Linked DNA regions of Homo sapiens. The protein of the gene in region 2 interacts with the protein of the main gene of each other region in a biochemical or structural test. Each region holds a gene or a part of one and is shown on either strand. Other genes may lie near its edges. The genes, in order: CCP110 and USP33.

What was found.
Region 1: of the proteins of USP33 (region 2) and CCP110, one has a biochemical effect on the other in vitro, tested with the Homo sapiens proteins (one study listed by BioGRID).

What each region holds. Positions count from the first base shown.
Region 1 is NC_000016.10:19,529,746-19,546,012, reverse strand, and holds part of CCP110 (centriolar coiled-coil protein of 110 kDa), read right to left. Parts: intron 13,598-16,267; coding exon 13,469-13,597; intron 10,074-13,468; coding exon 8,426-10,073; intron 5,357-8,425; coding exon 5,226-5,356; intron 4,127-5,225; coding exon 3,949-4,126; intron 3,393-3,948; coding exon 3,253-3,392; intron 3,136-3,252; coding exon 3,019-3,135; intron 1,217-3,018; coding exon 1,115-1,216; intron 920-1,114; coding exon 803-919; intron 197-802; coding exon 123-196; intron 1-122.
Region 2 is NC_000001.11:77,721,853-77,728,852, forward strand, and holds part of USP33 (ubiquitin carboxyl-terminal hydrolase 33), read right to left. Parts: intron 6,861-7,000; coding exon 6,443-6,860; intron 3,911-6,442; coding exon 3,770-3,910; intron 1,592-3,769; coding exon 1,479-1,591; intron 345-1,478; coding exon 172-344; intron 74-171; coding exon 1-73. UniProt on the Homo sapiens protein: Deubiquitinating enzyme involved in various processes such as centrosome duplication, cellular migration and beta-2 adrenergic receptor/ADRB2 recycling.

The DNA.
Region 1 (16,267 bases), on a different chromosome or scaffold from region 2:
TCTATCAGCTCAACTGCAGAAAAATTAACTCTTTATTTCTAAATTTAAATATGCAAATAGACCAACAGATGACTAAAATTAATTGGTTTGATAACTAACATGACATGATACAAAAAACTTACTTCATGTATTTCTTCCTATCAAGAGACTTCTGTGTTGCAGCTGAAAGAGCCACTCGTGGACTTTTCATTTTATCCTTTAATATACAAAAGTAACGTCAAACTCTACTGGAACCAATTAATACCACTATATTATAATGTATTATAATCCCACATTGCCTGGAAAAGCTTCTCTCTACTAACATTTTTAATTTAGTTAAATCATCTTGTTTTGTATTTTTGAAGCAGTCTAATTCTAAGAATTAAATAATTAGAATTATGTAAATTTTGCTTGCTTTTCCTTTGCCAATCACACTAAGATAACTGATTCAAATCACATACTCTGATATACTTCAAATTAACTTGGAGCCTGTTTTCTAACTCAGATTTCAAAAAAAGCAAAACCCACATTATAATTGAATTCAAGGAAATTCAATCAGGAGCAGCTGATAGATTGTATAAGCCATCTGAGCAAAACATTCAAAGCTTCAACTCTAAAATCCAATAAGAAAACAATATGTAATTCTTAAATGATGTAATTCTTTTAAATCTGTCTACAGATTTAAATGCTGCTAGTAATTCCAGGAATTACTTGTGCTTAAGAATTATCAGAAGAAGGGTGCTGAAGTCAACCAAAACTGACATTTAGTATCAATTACCCTAAACCCAGAAGAACTCTATTCATTAGAAATCATATAACATACCATTTGCCTGAGCATTTTCTCTTTGCGAACTTCTCGATCATGATGTAGAATAGACATTCTTTCAGCTGCATCCATTACAAAGAATATGTCATGAATACCGTACAAGGCAGCTCGCAACTAGGCACAAGAGAAGAAAATATTGTATACATTTAAAAGATGAGGTTAGAGTTCAGGAATACTATATACCATGTACACTTATTTATAGAAAAAGATTAAAATAGTTTTCATTGAAACCTATTTTCAGTGATTAAATAAAAAAGGAGAAATATAATATGTCCATGTCTTAAAAGCCTTCAGGATCCATGTATTTACCTGAGCTAACACTCTTTCCTGAAGTGAAGCATCTTGAGCTGAAACAATGCCTCTCTTTAATGGTGCTTCTGACTGAAAACTTCTTATGAATTCCATAGTATCCTGAAAAAAGAAATGCTCCTTCAAAAACATTTTTCTAGAAAGATTTGTGATCACTGGAGTTTGCTTTTTTCTTTTTCTCAGTCAATCCAAAATTACAGTCTTTCGTCAGTATCTGTGGGGGACTGGTTCCATGAATCCCTCAGATACCAAAATCCAAGGATGCTGGAGTCCCTTATATAAAATAGTTATCTGCATATAACCTAAGCACATCTCCCATATACTTTAAATCATCTCTAGATTAGTTAAAATACCTAATAAATGTACATGCTATGTAAATAGTTGTTATATTGTTTAGGAAATAATGACAAGGAAAAAAAATTTGTACATGTTCAGTACAGACACAACCATCATTTGTTTTTTCTGAATTATTTTTGATCCATGGTTCGTTGAATCCACAGATGTGGAACCCAGAGATAGAGGACCGACTGTACTAAGAACATAAATAAAACTATTACTTATCAGAAGTCAAACCACTCACTTTCAAGCAAGTCAAAAACACACAAACTGCTTCATTTACATGTTATTCATAATATTATCTGAGAAAGATTAACGATTATTGGGGGGACCAGCCCCCAATATTTCAACATAGGTTCTTTCTATTTTTCATAAGTGTCAGCCAGATGAGAAATAAAGAGAAAGAGTACAAAGAGAGGAATTTTACTGCTGGGCGTCCGAGGGGGACATCACATATTGGTAGGACCATGATGCCCACCTGAGCCTTAAAGCCAGCAAGTTTCATTAAGGATTTCAAAAGGGGAGGGGGTGCAAGAACAGGGAGTAGGTCACAAAGATCACATGCTTCAAAGGGCAAAAAGGAGAACAAAGATCACATGCTTCTGAGGAAACAGGACAAGGGCAAAATCAGAACTACTGATAAGGGTCTATGTTCAGCTGTGCACGTATTGTCTTGATAAACATCTTAAAAGGAAACAGGGTTTGAGAGCAGAGAACTGGTCCGACCACAAATTTACCAGGGTGGAATTTCCCAATCCTAGTAAGCCTGAGGGTACTGCAGGAGACCAGGGCATATTTTAGTCCTTATCTCAACCGCATAAGACAGATACTCCCAGAGTGGCCGTTTATATACCTCCCCCCAGGGATGCATTCCTTCCCCAGGGTATTAATTATTAATATTCCTTGCTAGGAAAAGAATTTAGCAATATCTTCCCTACTTGCACGTCCGTTTATAGGCTCTCTGCAAGACGAAAAATATGGCTCTATTTTGCCCGACCTCGCAGGCAGTCAGTTATGGTTGTCTTCCCTTGTTCCCTGAAAAACGCTGTTATTCTGTTCTTTTTCAAGTTGCACTGATTTCCTATTGTTCAAACACACATGTTTTGCAATCAATTTGTAGAGTTAACACAATAGTGGTCCTGAGGTGACCTACATCCTCAGCTTATGAAGATAACAGGATTAAGAGATTAAAGACAGGCATAAGAAATTATAAAAGTATTAATTTTGGGAACTGATAAATGTCCATATTAAAATGAAATCTTCACAATTTATGTTCAGCAATTGAAGTAAAGACAGGAGTAAGAAATTATAAAAGTGTTATTTGGGAACTGATATATGTCCATATTAAAATGAAATCTTCACAATTTATATTCCTTTGCTGCGGCTCCAGCTGGTCCCTCCATTCGGGGTCCCTGACTTCCCGCAACAAACAATCAGACTTCTAAAACTGCCTAGATTACAGTGACTAAAAAGCGTTTAAGTTCTGAACTAATCTGTTAGCTCAGCTGTCACAAGACTGATAGAAACTAAGACAGAAGTGAAATACAAACGATTTACAGGAATCTTACTTTTACAGTTTGTCGAAGTTGCTTCAGCTTATCTGTCTGCATAAGTCTACGAGTAAGAAATCCTTTTGCCACTGCAGTTATTTTGTTAAATTTTGCTTGTATTTCCAGACTAAAAACCTAGGAGAAAGAAGACAGACACAATGTTTATTGGTGTTCATTTATACAGTCTAAGATAATATAGCTCTTAAGAAAAGATAAATAGATAGATGGACATGTATCATTAAGTTTACCCACTTGAGACCATCTAGTTTTGGCTCTTCCAAAAGGCCTTGTTACTGAGAGTTTGGTCAAGCCACTAGTTGATGATCCCCAGAGGTAGAATGGTGCTTCGTTTGCAGAAACAAAGCTATATTGCATGGCAGAATTTGTGAAACCTAGAGAAACATACATATAGTATTATACTTGATGTCATATAATTAGAATACGAAGAACATCCCAATAAACACTTGTGACACTCATTAAGAATAACAACTGCCTCCAAAAATGACCTACCTGCCGACTTAAAATATTTATGGACTTTAAAGCTTACATACCAGGTGGATCTTTTCAACACAAACAGCATCTCAGGATAATTGAGATATGAAGATAAGCTATTTAAAGGGACTAGGGAATTAGAGGTAATTCAAGATCACTCAGGAGAGAGCAAACTGTTTTCACTTGAAGTATATCACCTGCTGCATGAATGATCAGACTGGGCTCTAAGCCAAATTTCCTGATCTTTTCCTGGCAAAGGTAATCTTTGTTCACAAACATCTGCTCACAAGTCTTTGATCTCCTATCATGTCATTTTTCACTGGTTACTAAGCAGCTGGCAAAGAGGGTTGGACATGGAATCATTTGAAAACAGGAGATATAATCTTATAGTGTGCCAAATAAATATCTTACCGTAGGATCACTTTCCCAAATGTAAAAGGATTTTTAAATATTTACCAGAACTATTTGAATTTGAAGTATGGAGTGAGTCCGCTTGAGACAGCATTGTTTCCAGCAAACTAGAGTCACTTATTTTTCTCCATTCTAATTCCACTGCATTGTTAATGTCCAACTCAGAGGCTTCCGCTGTCATTGCCTTCTTCTCTTTTAACATTTTCTCCTGCTCTTCTATTTCCTATACATGAACAGTTTATTGTAACATGCTAAACCTTTTAATTATGTCCCAAAATGATATCATTTTAGGCTTAGCCAAAAGTACATGTAATTATCAGCAATTATTATTTATTTCAAGTTTTTCTTCCTCAAATTATCCTTCCTTCCTTCTCCCTTCCCTTCCCTTCCCTCCCTCCCTCTTTTCTTTTCTTTCCTTCCTTCCTTTCTCTCTCTCTCTCTCTCTCTCTCTCTCTCTCTCCTCTCTCTCTCTTTCTTGTTTCAAGAAACAGAATCTCGCTCTGTCCCCCAGGCTGGAGTGCAGTGGCACGATCTCGGTTCACTGCAATCTCCACCTTGCGGGTTCAAGTGATTCTCCTGCCTCAGTTTCCCAAGTAGCTGGGACTACAGGTCCATACACCACCATTTTGTATTTTTTAGTAGAGATGGGATTTCACTATATGTTGGCCAGGCTGGTCTCAAACTCCTGACCTCAGGTGATCCATCCACCTCGGCCTCCCAAAGTGCTGGGATTACAGGCGTGAGCCACCACGCCCAGGCTATAATTTAATATGTGATAATGTATAGTTAAATTATTAATTATAATAATATTATAACAAGTGTCGTTCTTTTTTTTTTTCTTTTTATAGAGACAGGGTCTCCCTCTGTTGCCCAGGCTGGAGTGCAGTGGCTAGACAAAGGCGAAATCATAGCTCACTGCAGCCTTGAATTTCTGGGCTCAAGCAATCCTCCCACCTCAGCCTCCTGCATAGCTGGGACTACAGGCTCATGATACCACGCCCAGCATGAGTGTCATTTTTATGATACAACTCCTGCAGAATGTGTACTTTAGCACCTATTTATAAAATACCTTTTTAAAATATTAAGCTTTAAATCAAGGATTCAATAAAATATTCTCGATAAATTATGCAATTACTTTTAGATAAGGATCTAAATATCAAAATTCATATTTTGACAAAAAATACCATTCACGTATCAAAATGACTCCCTTACCTTAAGATATATGGAGGCAAAAATTACACGTATTCTATACATGACCAAAATTCATAGGTATCCTTGGCTAAATTTCACTTACCAGTTGTATCTCCCTCCACATTCCTCACCTTTTGCAGTCTTTCTTGTTCCCTTTCCTGCTCAGCTATGAGTAGTGATAATTGCTGGGCGTGCTGTTCTTCTAGTCTCTTCCGCATTTCTTCAAAAGCTAACATCTTGCTTTTTAGTAACTCCTCGCTTTCTGAAAAGAAACATGTTTCCTCAATTTAGAAAATTCACAAGTCTAATGTCTGATATTTTATACCATCAATTTAAATTATCCTTCTGACAAGAGAGTATTCCTGGATCTGACATAATACAATCAAGATATAGCTGGGTCTCTACTTCGAACCACACTCCTTTTATTTCATGCTACTCAATAAAGTAAGACCTGTATTGCATCACCTTTACCCACTCATTCAACAGATCCCATCCTGATCTGAAATGACAGACCCAGGACTATATATTCAGACAAGATTCTCCTGACTCTACTTAACTTTCAGATGTGGTCCTCAACTGCATCCTACCATCATTTGTTTTTTTGACACTTGTCCTCCAGGATCTCTGGTAGTGTAGCTTGTAGTTTTGCCTTGTTTTGATTTTCAAAGAAAGTGTTTCCTTGATGGTATAAAGCTTTCTCAGCTTGAGGTTTCAAAAAGGACTGGACGTTAAAATTCCAGATATTTAGTTACTAACTAAGAGAAAACATTATGACAATACAAGCTTCCTAAATAGAATGTGGTAAGACATGTTGAAATGTACAAATACCAAGTATGGGCCAGGTGTGGTGGCTCACGTCTGTAATCCCAGTACTTTGGGAGGCCAAGGCAGGTGGATCACTTGAGGTCAGGAGTTCGAGACCAGCATGACCAACATGGTGAAACCGAATCTCTACTGAAAAAATACAAGCGCATGCCTGTAATCTCAGCTACTTGGGAGGCTGAAGCAGGAGAATCGCTTGAACCTGGGAGGCGGAGGTTGCAGTGAGCTGAGATCGCACCATTGCACTCCAGCCTGGGCAACAAGAGTGAAACTCCATCTCAAAAAAAAAAAAAAGAAATTTCCACTCTGTTGGTCTTATGTACTTCTGATATTCACTGAGGCAGCCTCTTGCCTTGCTATGCTATCTACTTGGAGGATCCAAGTTGGCTCCCCAGGTAACAGTGGTTGTTTTTATTAGAGCTCTTATAAAGTTGCACAGGATGGGCCAGGGCTGGTGGCTCAAACCTGTAATCCCAGCACTTTGGGAGGCCAAGGAGGGCTGATCACCTGAGCCTAGGAGTTCGAGACCAGCCTGGCCAACATGGTGAAACCCTGTCTCCACAAAAAATATAACAGCTGGGCGTGGTGGCGCATGCCTGTAAATCTCAGCTACTTGGAAGGCTGAGGCAGGAGAATCGCTTGAACCCAGGCCTACAGTGAACTGAGATCGCACCACAGCAATCTAGCCTGGGTGACGGAGCAAGACCCTGTCTCAAAAAAAAAAAATTAAAAAAAAAAAAAGTTGCACAGGTTTTAAGCAGTCTGACCCAACCCTGTATTTCCCATAAGCCCTAAGAGCTTAACTTACTTGATTTGTATGTCTTCTATATCAGTAATAAAGAATTATCAACAATGACAACAAAGTAAGGGGTAATGAAGGAGAAAAACGTGCTTTAATAAATTGCTGTTAATGGATACAACAGAAAAAACTGAAATAATAATTTTTATTAATTAAGAACCTTTATTATTATTATTTTTTTTTTTTGAGATGGAATCTGGCTCTGTCACCCAGGCTGGAGTGCAATGGTGCAATCTCGGCTCACTGCAACCTCCGCCTCCTGGGTTCATCCAATTCTCCTGCCTCAGCCTCCCAAGTAGCTGGGATTAAAGATGTGCACCACTACGCCCAGCTAATTTTTGTATTTTTAGTAGAGACGGGGTTTCGCCATGTTTGTCAGTTTGGTCTCGAACTCCTGACCTCAAGTGATCCACCCACCTCGGCCTCCCAAAGTGCTGGGATTACAGGCGTAAGCAACCGCGCCGGCCTAAAGAACCGTTCTTGAACCACCTACTCAGAGCCTTATTTCTGATACTTTGTCTAATAATTTGATGTTAAAGTGTTTACTGAAGGACCAATTACACGAAGCTCATACTACAAATGAAAAAGCAAACTGAAATAAACATTAGAAACTATAGTCCAAAAGAAAGACCTCATAGCAATACAGTGAATTAAAACTGTAAGTGATGTTTCAGGCAAGACTGTTTGGGGCTGGGTGCGGTGGCTCATGCCTGTAATTCCAGCACTTTGGGAGGCTGAGGCGGGTGGATCGCTTGAGGCCAGGAGCTTGAGAGCAGCCTGGCCAACATGGCAAAACCACATCTCTACTAAAAATATAAAAATTAGCTGGGCCAGGTGGTAAGCACCTGTAATCCCAGCTACTCTGGAGGCTGAGGCACGAAAATCAATTGAACCCAGGAAGCAGAGGTTGCAGTGAGGTGAGAACCCGCCACTGCACTCCAGCCTGGCGACAGAGCAAGACTGTCTCAAAAAAAAAAAAAAAAAAAAAAAAAAAAGAACTGTTTCCTCCAATTATTAATATTCTCAATAATACCAAGTGGACTATGAAAGCTTCATCATTTAAATAAGAAGATCCATCCAGGCATGATGGCTCACGCCTGTAATCCCAGCTACTCAGGACGCTGAGGCATGAGAATTGCCTGAACCGGGAGGTGGAGGTTGCAGTTAGCCAAGGTTGTGCCACTGCACTCCAGCCTGGGCAACAGTGCCAGACTGTCTCAAAAAAGAAAATCCTGGCTGGGTGTCGTGGCTCACGCCTGTAATCCCACAGCTTTGGGAGGCTGAGACGGGAGGCTCACTCAAGCTCATGAGTTTGAGACCAGCTTGGGCAACATGCCAGAAACTCCATCTCTACAGTACAAAAAATACAAAAATTAGCCGGGCATGGTGGCATGAGCCTGTAGTCCCAGCTACTTGGGAGGATGAGGTGGGAGGATGGCTTGAGCCCAGGAGGCGGAGGTTGTAGTGAGCTGAAGTCATGCCACTTCACTCCAAACTGGGGTGATAGAGCCAGACCTTGTCTCAAGAAAATCTTTAAGAAAGCCTATCAAATGGCAATAAACTGTAGCTGACTAATATGCTTTCTAATAAGATAAATAAAATTAAGTGCCCATATGAATAAAGACCACTTTTTTCCCAAAAATGTCAATTAAGAGTATTAAAATAAAGGTATCTGCATAGAAGGTATCAAACGCTTCAAAGATTCCTTACCTTTGGAACTAGTTCCTAACATTTTATTCTTGTTAACGAAGCCAGATCCCTTAGGGTATCTTTTTTCTGGCAAATGTTGCCTTTCTTGTTCAGTTATTCCACTTGTTATGACATAAGGGCAGTTTTCTTTTTGCAAACCATCAATATCTAAATCAAGTCTCCGTTTAACTTTCTCAAAACTGTTATCCAAAAATTGTTCATTTCCACAGGACACCATAGGTGTGTCCATCTGCTGTCTCGTATTCTGGTTTTGCATCAATAAAGGAGAAGGGTTTTTTACATCATAAGACTTATTCAGTTCTGTTTGCAAACTGCAGTTTTTCTCTAACATACTGGCTGGCTTGAGTCCACTCACAGTTCCAAAGTTTGGACTTGCTATACACTGACTGCTGGCATATGGTTCATGCAGCTTTGGCATCGCAGCACAGGTACTGTTCATTATGTGTGCGCCTCTCTCATCGGATGTTAACTGACCTTCCACAGTAACAAGTCCATGAGTAACTTTATTTTCTAAATGATTTCCTGAAGATTGACATACCTGATTTGATTTACCTAAAACCACATCTTCTTTGACTTCAGATGTATTTTTGCCCACATAAACCTTGCTTGAACAAACTCCCGCTAAATCAGTTGGTAACTTTGGCATAATTTCGGGCACATTTGTGTTTTCATCAGTATCTTGAATAATTAAGTCCATTGCCTGTTCTTTTCCTTTAGGGCTTAATTCACAGGCATTTATTGGGTTATTTATAAGTATATGACACGCTGATGATGTCCTGGAACGTCTTCGGTGCATTTTAGGACTCATACTTGGCTCTGGACTAGGTAATTTGGCATATGAACCTGTAAGACTTTTGATAACATTATTTTCGGTAACAAAAGTGGGAATAACTTTAAAATCAGAATTAGACTCTAGAACAGTGGGATGGCCAGTTCGTATAGGTATGTCCACTTTCGAAAAGCTAGCTAAAACTGGCATACTCATGCTGCTTGCTTGAGTGGAAGCACCTTGGAGAAGAACATTTGATTTATTAAGGCTTGGTTTGTCAGGAATAACTGAGACACAGTGTTTGCCTGTCAACTGGCCTTTCTCTTTTACACAGTCAGCCACTTCAACAGCATCATGTTCTTTGTCTAAATGACTCTCATTAACAATTCTGTTGATACTACCTCTCAGACTGCGTCTAGATTGTTCTCTTTCTATATATTCCTTTGACTTTTTCATCAGATTCTGAAGACTCATTACATAGGGATCTGGGATGACTTCTGCCAAAAGTGGTAGATCCTGTTGTTCATTTACTGAGAAGGGACCATCAGAAATAAGAGTTTCTTGTGGGGTTGCTGAAGAGGTCTTTGGAAAAGCTTCATTTTCTACATGACTAATATTGGAACTATCACATTGCTTCGGAGAATTAAATCCTTCTGAATCTCTAGCTAAGTCTATTCCATCAGTTTTACATTGGTCCTCATTATCCAATGGCAAAATCCCAGCTATCTTATCAAGCTTTGCTGCAGTAGAGTGTTCCGTATGGCTTGGAAAGCTATTTGGAAATGTAGCAGGAACATTCAAGTTTCTGACTTCTGAATTAGAGTAAACTGTTTCCATCTCCCACTGATCAAAATCACTGGCATTAGGTGCTTTTCTAACCTGAAACAGGAAATTTAAAAATTAATATTTCCTCATTGCACAAAAAGTCTCTGATTTCACTGTTTTCTAAAATAAAATTGAAATTGAAAATTCAGAATTCTGACATTTCAAAACATAAAGAAAAACTAAGATGACAGGTTTCTACGGTATCCTGTATCACAGGGGGCTCAAATTATTATTGAAAAGATGCCTACTGGTCATCCTGCCTAAGTTATTAAAAGAGTTATAAAAGAGTTATAAAAAGAAACATCTAATCTGATACAAATATGAACATATATATGTGTATACACACACACATATATTCATATATCCATGTGCAATTTAATCTTAGAATACAAGCACTTAAATTTCTTCTAGTCATATGTTATTAACATTACCAACTGTTCCTCCTAGGATAGCTATCATCCAAGGATAATAATATATGCAATAAACAGCAAGTAATGAAATGTCTTACGTAAACGATTCCCTCTCTAACAAAGACTAACTTGTCCAGGACATTGATTAAGCAAAAATGATTCAGTAATAAGACTCCTGCACCTACATGCTTACTCCAAAGTTTAACTAAACTTTGTCTCAAAAATGAATGAATGAATGAATGAATGAATGTAAAAATAGATATTTTGTATCTAAATAATCCAACTTTGCAAAAGAATAAAAAGAGAACTAGGATAGTTTCTAAAGGTAATTATACATCCGTATATTAAACTGGCAAAAATCATTGTATTATCATATGAATACAGACATCAAAAGCCTGACTACTGGCGGGGCATGGTGGCTCACGCCTGTAATCCCAGCACTTTGGGAGGCCGAGGCGGGCGGATCATGAGGTCAGGAGATCAAGATCATCCTGGCTAACACAGTGAAACTCCATCTCTACTAAAAATACAAAAAATTAGCTGGGCTTGGTGGTGGGCACCTGTAGTCCCAGCTACTCAGGAGGCTGAAGCAAGAGAATGGCATGAATCTGGGAGGCGGAGCTTGCAGTGAGCCAAGATCACGTCACTGCACTCCGGCCTGGGCGACAGAGCGCGACTCCATCTCAGAAAAAAAAAAAAAAAAAAAAAAAAGTCTGAATATTACAATATTTTTTGGTTGTTTTGAATGTGCTTGTTTTTTTCTAGACCACATGGCTCTCCTATTTTACGTTACAAATCCCAAGACAGGTAATGGTTTCCAGGTACTATGCAATACACAGTACAATAAGACATACTTAGTCACAACCTCAGAACCAAAATAAAACAAAAAAGATGCAAAAAGGTTTCCAGGTACTATGCAATCAACAGTACAAGAGTACAAGACATACTTAGTCACAGCCTCAGGACCAAAATAAAACAAAAAGGATGCATATTTATGAAATCCATGAACATGTTCACAGGTTTAAGTAAAACAGATGATTTCCTTACGTAAAATATTTCACATTTGTGATATTCGGAAGCTATGTTGTTTATACGTCACTAAAATGAGCCTTTAGTTAGACAAGTTAAATAACAACAAGAAAAAAATCTATCATAGAATCTTAGGTTTTACAGGTGAAGCAGAAATCTAATTGTATTATATAAAATTTTCCTATCTGAATAATTAATTCATTACAGTTCAACATTATACATGCTCTTTTAACAATTTTATTAGTAGTATATTTTATCTTCCCTCAATGGACCAAGAATGATATGCCATTTTCATTTCAATCACAGGAAATACGTAGTAAGTAAAAAACCTACCTCTTATTGTTAAATTAGTGCTACTCAATACATTTTTTAAACTTAATATGGACAGTAATTATAATCTGCAAAATGAAATCTACTACCCACACACTATATACTACTGTGAAAGGGAAATAATATCTCAGGACCCCAAACTCAACTATGTCACATGAGAGTCACTATGACTCTCATTAACAATTCTCTTAATACTACCTCTCAGCCTGCGTCTAGATTGTTCTCTTTCTATATATTCCTTTGACTTTTTCATCAGATTCTGAAGACTCATTACATAGGGATTTCGAGTAACTGAAATGGAAAATCACATGTCAAAGGAAAAAGTAAAGCTTAGGAACTGAGTCACACAAAAACTGCCTTCCTTTTATTCCTAAACAGATAGCTGCAAAATAGAAGGCCACCTATCTACCCAGGTAGACTCTCTTGCAAATTGCTCACAAGGAAATTCCTCGTAGGCCCCAAAATCTTTACACCAACCCAGAGTTCTGCTGAATTTCACTCTGACAAGATACGGACAAAGACCAAAGATGACTAGAAATCATCCCTTTGGAGACAAATGTATATTTGACTTCTTCCTCTACTCTGCTTACTTTATCCTATGTAAAATGCAGATTTATTGAGCTTGAGATGAATGCATAACTGACTGTTCCTCTACCCCCACCTTTCTCATGCGACTTGTGGATTCAGTGAGTGCTAATCAAAGCCTCACAAAAATGTGATCGCTTATCTCATTACCTACCCTCCTTTTTTTTTCTTTCCTCTTTCCCCTCCTGCTGTTCTCTCCCCTTTATACACTGAAGTCCTCAAAACCTCTTCTGGAAAAGCATAAGCCACAGATTCTACTGTAACTTTTGTCTCTTTTTCCTTGGCACATCCTCAACCTTGGCAAAACAAACCTCTAAATCGATTGAGACTTGCCTCAGTCATTTTCTTCAGTTTACACTACCAACAGAGAAATGAACCCTTAAGGTTCATTATACACGTGTCATCGATACGAATTAAACAGACAAACCACAAACTCCTAAGATTATGAAAAAACAAAAAGATGTTACCAGCAGAACACTGCTATATGTTGTAGAAATTATTCGTTCAATCTAATTCATTTGTTTTTCTTTTTAGTACAAAATGATCCACATGTCAGAACAAATTGTTTATACAAATCTAAAAATAACTGCACAAGGTGTAGATGTGTTGTTTAAATAGTTTTTAGACATAGGATGCATCTAAACAATTCAATGTTATCTAAACTGCATTTTGTGTATCTAAGAGTTTTCACCAAAAAAAAATTGGAGGCAGTTATTTACTTAAGCAAAGAATGAGAATAAGGTCATTTAGTCAATAGTCTAATTAGTTTGGGGTAAACAATAATACCCAATTCTGTCATTTTGTCACTGAGAATTCAATGTTTTTAGAGTCATAAGATGCAAACAATAAGCAATTATATTCAGTGTATGGTTCTATTGTGTAAATATCCTCTGATTCAAGTACTGGGCATTACTAACAAGCAAGTACATTCTCTTTGGAGTAACTGAAATGGAAAATCACAAATTATGAAGCTTCTCAAACGTAACAGTAAAGTACATTAGTAATTAGTTAAGTGCAAATATATTTCAGAAAAATTATCATCAACGCTTATCTTATGATTTCTTTATTATAACTGAAACAGCTAAAATCACACACCTGAACATTGTCAAGAATCTCCTGGACACGAGTCAGTAAAGCTTTCTTCCTGTTAACCTGCTTTCTTGCTTCTACATCAAGTGCTTTCTGCTTTTCTTGTTGCATTTCCTTTCTTTTCTCAATGTTAAGCTGCAAAACATCATAAAAATGTAATTATTTCCCACGATAAAAATATCATAAAATCGGGAAGTTGTGAATCAGAAAGATTAAAAACATGTGCAACAGGCAAAACTAATGTATAGTGAAAGAAATCAGAACAATGGTCTGGGTACTGAGTGGGATGGGGCATTAGAGATCTTTCCATGGTGAAGAAAATCCTGTGTGGGTGTGAGTTATACATGTGTATGCCATATATCAAAACTCATGGAACTTTAACACTTAAGATTTGTGCATTTTGCTATGTGTAAATTATTTTCAGTTAAAAGGTTAAAAAGAAAAAAGTTTGTTCACTAATCAAATGTTCTAAAATGACAGAAATAAAATTAAGGCCCTTTTGGCCACTGCTGAGTTTTTTATTACTTCACTTGAATATTGACTTGAATATTACTTCACATTCAGTATCCTTTTTTTTTTTTTTTTGAGATGGAGTCTTGCTCTGTCACCTAGGCTGGAGTGCAGTGGTGCGATCTCGGCTCACTGCAACCTCCGCCTCCTGGGTTCAAGCGATTCTCCTGCCTCAGCCTCCGGAGTAGATGGGCTTACAGGCGCGTGCCACCACGCCCAGCTAATTTTTGTATTTTTAGTAGAGATGGGGTTTCACCATGTTGGTCAGGCTGGTCTCGAACTCCTGACTTTGTGATCTGCCCACCTCGGCCTCCCAAAGTGCTGGGATTACAGGCGCGAGCCACCGCGCCTGGCCCATCTTCAGTATCTTATTTCACTGGATCAACTGGATTCTACAACTTTTAATTTTCTAACCAGTGCACAATTTAACTCTTTGCTGCCTCAAAAAATGTCCAAAGGTTTAATGATAAAATAAACAGATAATATATTATTTGCCTACAAAAGCAGAATACATCTTTTCTTTCACCTCACTCTACCTTCTGATAAAAATATAATGTACCTAAAAAATGGAAGGCTTCTAAGCATTGTATCTCTTTATAATGGATTTCAATCTTAATTATTAAGTCCTGGGAAATTAAATCACTGTTAACAGTCAAGACTTATCGTAGACTTACACAAATAGAAAATATATCATTAAAAAATTATTTCAAAAGTTGCAATATTCACCTATCAAATACAACATAAAAGTGTGGATTAGGTCCATAAACATCACATTTTGCTTATAAATAAATAACAGACGGAGTCATAGACCCTACACAACAAGCCTCAGACATTTTGGTCCACATTAAATCAAGCAATGTGTTATCAAATAGCTGATAAATATGTTGTTTTAAAACTTTTTCCTAATTGCATGGTACCAAAGAATGATTATACAATTTACTTGCTAATCAAAAGGAGAAAATGTGTACTTTAAAGAGCCATCTGGCAGTCACTACTGTAAGCAAGTGTTCAAACTAAACATCACTAATAGAGGGCAACTAAACATTATGTAACTTCTGATTTAATTTAGTATGAAGTGCAGGGCATCATCTCCAAAGAATTCCTTTTTTTTTTGAGATGGAGTCTCAGGTTGGAGTACAGTGGTGCGATCCCGATCCCTCCTGGGTTCAAGCGATTCTCCTGCCTCGGCCTAACGCACAGCTGGGATTACAGGCACCCACCATCATGCCTAGCTAATTTTTATATTTTTAGTAGACAAGGGGTTTCGCCATGTTGGCCAGGCTGGTCTCGAACTCCTGACCTCAAGTGATACACCCATCTCGGGCTCCCAAAGTGCTGGGATTACATTTTTTTTTTTTGAGAGAGGGTCTCACTCTGTTGCCCAGGCTGTTGTGCAGTGGCTCGATCTCGGCTCACTACCTTTGCCTACTGGGTTCAGTGGATCTTGGCTCACTGCAACCTTCGCCTCCTGGGTTCAAGGGATCCTCCTGCCTCAGCCTCCCACATAGCTGGGATTACAGGCATCCACCACCACGCCCAGCTAATTTTTGTATTTTTAGTAGAGACGGGGTTTCGTCATGTTGGCCAGGCTGGTCTCAGCCTCCCAAAGTGCTGGGATTACAGGCATGAGCCACCCCGCCCAGCCCTATCTTCAAAGAATTCCAAAAATCTTTAACCTGTTTATCAAACTTCACTTCCAGTTCATAGGAACTACAGGGACTAGAGAAACAAGTTAAATAACACTATTAGGAAACAATGGGACAAATCCAAGATCTAAGGAATTCTACAAGACAATAGCTCTGGTCTCTTTAAAAATTCAGTATCATAGTTTTGTTATTTTTTTAAAGACAGTATCTCACTCTGTCACCCAGGTTGGAGTGCAGTGGCATGATCAGGGTTCACCGCAGCCTCAGCCTCCCGGGCTCAGGTGATCCTCCCACCTCAGCCTCTAGAGCAGCTGAGACTCCTGGTGCGCGCCACCACACCCAGCTCTTTTTTGTATTTTTTGTAGGGATGAGATTTCACCACGTTGCCCTGACTGGTCTCAAACTCTGGGGATCAAGCAATGCAATCCACCCACCTCAGCCTCCCAAAGTGCTGGGATTATAGGCGTGAGGCACCATGCTCAACCAATAAAAAAAACTGTTTTTAAGACGTACAGTAGCTATTTTAGATTAAAATAAAGAAACATAACAAGCAAATACTAATTGTGAACTTTGGATCCAGATTGGGGGAATAAAGTTATAAAAGGCATTTTGAGCACAAATGGAAAAATTTAAATATGAACAGAATTAT
Region 2 (7,000 bases):
GAAGGCAGCAAGACAATCTTGCAAGGTTACTACTGGACCCCAAAACCAGCTAGGGACACATGAGACAACAAACCTGAAACATCATTGATAGAAAAAAAAGGAAGTGTTCTGCCAGTACAGCAGAAACAGCAGGTTTAACAATCATGTAATACAAAGAAAATAAATACATACCTCTTCACATATTCCATGAAAAAAGCTATCCACCCTTGTGGAGCATATGCTTCGCCACATGATCCTGCTTTGACTATAGAAGTTGGATGACTTGATGAATGCAGCTTAGCAAGGTCTTCCTTGCCAGGAATTGGCAAGGACAGATCTTGAAAGGTCTCGAGGGTTACAGACACCTAAAATTGTTTTGTGTTTTAAAAATGGGATGAACATAATGCAGTAAAACATTTCCAAGGTTAGATTTTAGACTCTAAAGATCAAAGCATGTTTAAATAAGCAAAAAAAACAAAAAACAAAAAAAAACACGCAAATTGAACTGCTTTCATAGTCATAATAGCAAAAAAAAAAACAAAAACAAAAAACAAAACACACTTGCTCTGTACCAGGTATCTTCACGTAAGTCCTGTGCAGTAGTATTAGCATCCCCATTACAATCACAGACACTGCAGCATTAAACACCCCAAATCCAGCCACTGCATCTTGAGGTCCAAACTCTTAAGCACTATTGTATTTATTTTTGAAAATTGACCTTTGATGGTAGTTTTAAAATATTTTTTTAAAAGGGTGAGACAAAATCTGGCATCTAATTTTAAATAGCTAAAAACATGCCTGATAATTCCACTTAAATATTTAGTACCAAAATAACCTACATTAAAACGACCCGATTGAAAGTTCTTAGATTTGACTTGAGATTCTAACACAATAATTGAAATCTTCTTTTTGTTTTTGAGATGTTATTTCATATTCATCATTGCACTAAAGTAAAACTGTACTTAAGAAAAGCTCAAAGAAACTTTGAAGAAGTGTTATTAAAAAATTCATGATGATTTTAATGTATGCTTTGTTATTGTCTATGAATTTGATACTACCTTTAGTATCTGAGTCCCATCCTAAACATGGAAAAATATTTACAAACCATATATGACCAAATGTAAGAGATACATTCACAGCTTTGTACCTGTGAATATCAACAGATTCCCAGTATACAAATTTCATCAGCCTGGGAGAATATGCAGGTGTTACCAATTCTTGTTGCTGAGCAACTTCTCACCTTTATATGTAACCAAAATAGATGACGAAGGATAATATGTGCCTGTCCAATGATGGGTCACCATCCTTTAAACAGGATGCTGCTACTTCCAAAAAAAATTCTACACCTAGAATCAAATTTGTGTTGATGTAAACACAATAAATGCATGTATGCTCATCAATAGCAAAGAGAAGGAATTAAACTTTTCACATCATCTTGTCACATTTTTAAAAATCATTTGACACGAATTTTCTGTGTATTCTAATACCCTCATACTCACCCTGTCACAAGTCAGACACTGCACTGAACTAATGATTGTTCCATCAAATATGTCTGAAATAACACTTCTGTATTTCTTGTGCTGTTTTTTTCTCTTTGGAGATGCAGACTGAGCTAGGATTGAAAAACATTAAAAAAAAATCAAAGCAGCTCCTTTAACATTTTTCTCTGGAATCTTTTTTTGTCTTGTCAATCTTACTTGTATATGATCTCTAGAATCCTTAAACTGTAAAAATTACTGTGTTGAAAATTTTCAAAATACTCTTCAAAAGAGCATAAGTATTAAAAAAATAAAAGAAACTAAGCAGACAAGGCTTAAGATATTTGTTGTTTTTTTTTGTTTTTTTGTTTTGAGGTGGAGTCTCGCACTGTTGCCCACACTGGAGTGCAGTGGTGCGATCTCGGCTCACTGCCAAGTTCTGCCTCCCGGGTTCATGCCATTCTCCTACCTTAGCCTCCCAAGTAGCTGGGACTACAGGCGCCCACCACCACGCCCAGCTATTTTTTTGTATTTTTAGTAGAGACAGGGTTTCACCATGTTAGCCAGGATAGTCTCGATCTCCTGACCTCATGATCCACCCACTTCAGCCTCCCAAAGTACTGAGATTACAGGCGTGAGCCACCGCACCCAGCCTGTTTTTTTTTTTAAAGTATAAATGATCCTTGGCCACCATAAATGTACATATGAGAAAATGAACAAAATTCTAAATTAGCACAAAACCACAAATGCTTCATCACTGGGATGTTTACTTAAATGTTTTACAAGTCAAAAGAAGAGGGGAAGAGGTTAGAAAGTGAGGGAAAGATGATGAAAGTCATCATCAAGCTAAAGATGAAATAGAAGGGGTTCGGTCTCCCTATCCTGACTTGAGAGCAATTCTGTTTTCACTTATTTGTTTTTGTCTCCAGGTAAGGCTTTATTTGAAGAAAAGATTCTATTATTTAAAGTTTTTAAGAGTTCTTTATATATTTCTGGATACATGTCCTTTGCTAGCTATATGATTTATAAATACATCCAACCTTATCTTTCCATTCTCTGAATGTCCTTTGTCAACAAAAATCTTTAATTTTTTTCTTTAATGGATCATGCTTTTAATGTCTTTAAGAACTCTTTGTCTAACCCAAGGCCATGAAGACTTTCTCCTATGTTTTCTTCTAAGAAAACATAATACTGGAACTCCCATATATACCTGGAAGGAATACTAAATGGTAGACACTCTGGTAAAAAGTCTGGCAGTTTAATACAACTATAAGCATTAAACAAACATAAAACCCAGTAACCCCACTTCTAGGTATTTGTCCTAGACAAATGAAAAAATGTTCTTACAAAAACCTATACATAAATTTTAGAGCAACATTATTCATAATTGCCAAAAATTGGAAACAATTCAAAAGTCCACCAGTAGGTAAATAAACAGTGGTATACCCATAAAAAATGAGATATTAGGCCGGGCATGGTGGCTCATGCCTGTAATTCTAACACTTTGGGAGGCAGAGGTGGGGAGATCACAAGGTCAGGAGTTCGAGACCAGCATGGCCCATCTCTACTAAAAATACAAAAAATTAGCCAGGCATGGTGGCGTGCACCTGTAGTCCCAGCTACTCGGGAGGCTGAGGCAGGAGAACTGCTTGAACCTGGCAGGCAGAGGTTGCAGTGGGCCAAGATTGCACCACTGTACTCCAGCCTGGGCGACAGTGAGACTCCATCTCAAAACAAAACAAAAAAAAAGAAACATTACTTGGTAGTAAAAGGAACAAACTATTCAGACACGCAGTAACATATCTGAATTTCAAATGCATTATCCTGAGAGGCAAACCTGTTTCAAAAGACTACATATGAAAAGATTTAAAAAAATCAAAAGACTACATACTATATGATTTCATTTATATGACATTCTAGGAAAAGGCAAAACAATAAGAAAAGAGGATCAAGGGTGCCAGAACATAGGAATAGAGAAATGATCTGATTACAAAGTAGTACTATGCAGGAATTCTTTGGGGTGTTAGAGCTGTTCTGTATTCTGTTTGTGGTGGTGGTAACAAGAATCTATGCTGCAAGTGTTAAAATTCATAAAGCTCTATACAAGAAAAAGTGAATTCAACTGTATGTAAAATTTTAAAAGCAGAGTACCAACACACAAAATTTTTAATCATGTCTATGTAAAATTATGCTATCAATTTTAAAAGATCAAATCATATTTCATAATTAACACTTTAAATTATCAAGTACCAAAACCATCATTTTAAACTAAGACCCAAAGCAAAAGAGACTGAATAAGAGAAACGTTTTACCTTTTTTGTGTGGTGGTGCCAATCCTGGCCACAAATTGCCTGATTTAGGAGGGCTTGCCGATAAACGTGGATTAACACCTTCATTTGATGGAAGGATCTGTGGTGTAGACAGGTCATTCGAATGGACATCAGTGATATATTCTGTAAGATTTAAAATTTGCATTATTACCTTAAATAGTAAAATTATTCTAACTGTCCAATAATGTTAAAGGTTTCTTAATTTGATATTTTGAACACAATCATATTAACAAATGTCAAGTTAAATACTTAACAAAGTGCTTACTAAGCAAAATAACAGTAATCTTCTACCCAGAAATCCAACTAATTTTTGTTTACTTGTTTTTTTGAGACAGAGTCTCCCTCTGTCCCCCAGGCTGCAGTGCAGAGGTGCGATCTCAGCTCACTGCAACCTCCGCATCCTGGATTCAAGCGATTCTTCTGCCTCAGCCTCCCAAGTAGCTGAGATTACAGGCATGTGCCACCAGGCCCACCTCATTTTTGTATTTTTAGTAGAGATGGGGTTTCACCATTTTGGCCAGGCTGGTCTCAAAGTCCTGGCCTCAAGTGATCCACCCACTTTGGCCTCCCAAAGTGTTGGGATTATAGGCATGAACCACCGTGCCCAATCCCAACTAATGTTTATAACACACGACTATTACAGGCAGTTTAGGAAGTGAGCAGTGGAAATACAAAGCCAAAGAGGATCTTGTTTGTCCAAATATAGCATTAAAAAAAAAAAAAGAGGCTAGGCTGGGTGGCTAACGCCTACAATCCCAACACTGGGAGGCCAAGGTGGGAAGACTGCTTGAGCCCAGGAGTTCAAGACCAACTGCGCAACATCATGAGACCCCCATCTCTACAAAAAAATCTAAAAATTAGCTGGGCATGGTGGTGTACACCTGTAGTGCTGGCTACTCAAGAGGCTGAGGTGGGAGGATCACTTGAGCCCAGGAGGTTGAGGCTGTGGTGAGATGTGATCATGCCACTGCACTCCAGCCTGGGTGACAGAATGAGACCCTGTTTCAGGAAAAAAAAAAAAAAAGATATTCAGGACAGGTTTTTAGAAGTTCTAAAACCATGTGAAAGAAAAATCGATTATTCTCCCAAACTAACATAATAATCAAAATCAAGAAATGTAGGTATAAAGTAATCATAAGTTATTTTATCTTACTATAATAAAAAATACACCACTTCATCAGGAAAGAATCTTTTTTTAGAATTAAATTATAAGATGAATCAAGAAAATATAAGAGCTACCTTGATTGTTTGCTTTGGATTCCTAGTGCCTAACATATTCCAGGGCAAGGGAATGTGCTCAGTAACTATTTGAGTGAAGAAAAGAGAATTGTTCGTAAGAGATCTGGAAAGGGGATGTACTCAGAAATTTTTCCAGATAATGCAAAATCATTTTTCACACAGGCATTTCTCAATATTTCAATCATGACTAAATCAGACTGCATAATATTGGGAGTGAAAAAACAACTCACTCTAGGACTTTCTGAAGGGAATAAAGTTAATGAGATTTAGATGGGGAGTTGGCAATTTTTTCCTCTAACGGACCAGAGATGAAGTGTTTTAGGTTTGTGTGCCTTACAGACTTCGCCAGATTTTTTTCATCAAGCCCTTAAAACACCTAAAAGCTCAGACTCCTGATTTAGGTCATCCCCTTGTTACTATGTGTAAGAACAAACCTGTTACAGAGCAATCAAAGATGAGTATGTCCCTAATCAGGCTTAACTGGGCTTTTGACAAGAAAAGCCTGGACAGCAGTCAAAGCTAAGTCTTTCAATACTGATACCTGACATATTTATTCACTAACAACTTCTACACAAGATCAGTATAATTAAGGAGCCTAACACTCCTAGTCTTCCCGATTAGAAAGCATCTGTGCACTTTACCCAAGTGAACCACAAGTCTTCCTATAGTTAATAATATTTTCAAGAAGAAATTTTGGATTCATTCAAATACCTAAATAAATTGCTTAGTTACTCTCACTCTTCAGTAATTACAGAAAATAAACTTTTTTACATTACATGTCTGCCACTTATTTTAAGATCACATAATTTGAACCTCTAATGGCCCAATTTTGTGTGCTTTGGAAAACTACATACCACATTTTAAGCCAAGATAAGTTAACTCTTGAAGAGATAAATTACAAAGCAATTCAACTTTCATTTGGCCACATGCTCTTTCTCAAAGGAACACTGACTAGTATCATGGCATAATCTATCACAGCAGGGCTCACTATAGTTAATTCAACTTCTACACTAAAACACATCTGATGTGACTCCAATGACAACAATCTAAATCTACTAGTGTATATAATTAGAAAATTGCAATTTGGGTTATTTGCTTTTTTCCAGGATCGCAACATAATTTGCTTAAAATAAAAGAGAAAATTCTGGGGAGCCCAATTTTTTAGATTACTGCATGACTACACAAAAGACATCTGATGAAATGTTTACTTCAAAAGGAGGATTAATTTCTTATATAATTAAATGACCCAAAAAATTCCTTTTATCCTCGGGTTCTATAATTTTATGACTAATACTCACATGCAAATACTGCTAAACTATAATTCTAATTAGAAATACCCAAAGTAACAATTATTTAAACACCCATGTCTACAAATGAAATACTATCATTTTCATGAACAAACTACTAAATTGTCACCTGAAGCTCTGCTGTGTATTTGCACTTTGACAGTTTCCTGGTTGTTTAAGTCGACTGTTTCAGATATAGAGTCTCTATCTTTATCAAATTCGCCTTCAGAATTTACTTTATTAATCTTATTGCACATCTTCTCTTTTTGCCAATCCTTTGACATTTCTGAATTGTTTTCATCATCCTGAATTAACATTGTTGTTTCATTATTATCTTCAGAAAAGCATCTAGAGCCATTTTCATTTTCTGCTCTATCACTGTTGCTACAAGATTCACAAGACTGAAAATCTACATCCGACTGGCTCTTGTCTTCTTCCATTGTCTCCTCAGTGGTTATGGTTTGCGGATCTTCTTCTACTTCCATGACTTGCTCTTTCAATTCTTCATGAAGCAAATCCATTAAACATCGAAGGAATTCTTGAGCATCCTAATATATCAGCAACATAATGTTAACCACTTCATTACATGTGTATATAGAAACGTAAGGGAAAATATACAAAATGTCATTACAAACTTATATATGAAGGTACAGCACTATATTGAGCAAATACCAGTTTGGAGAGCATA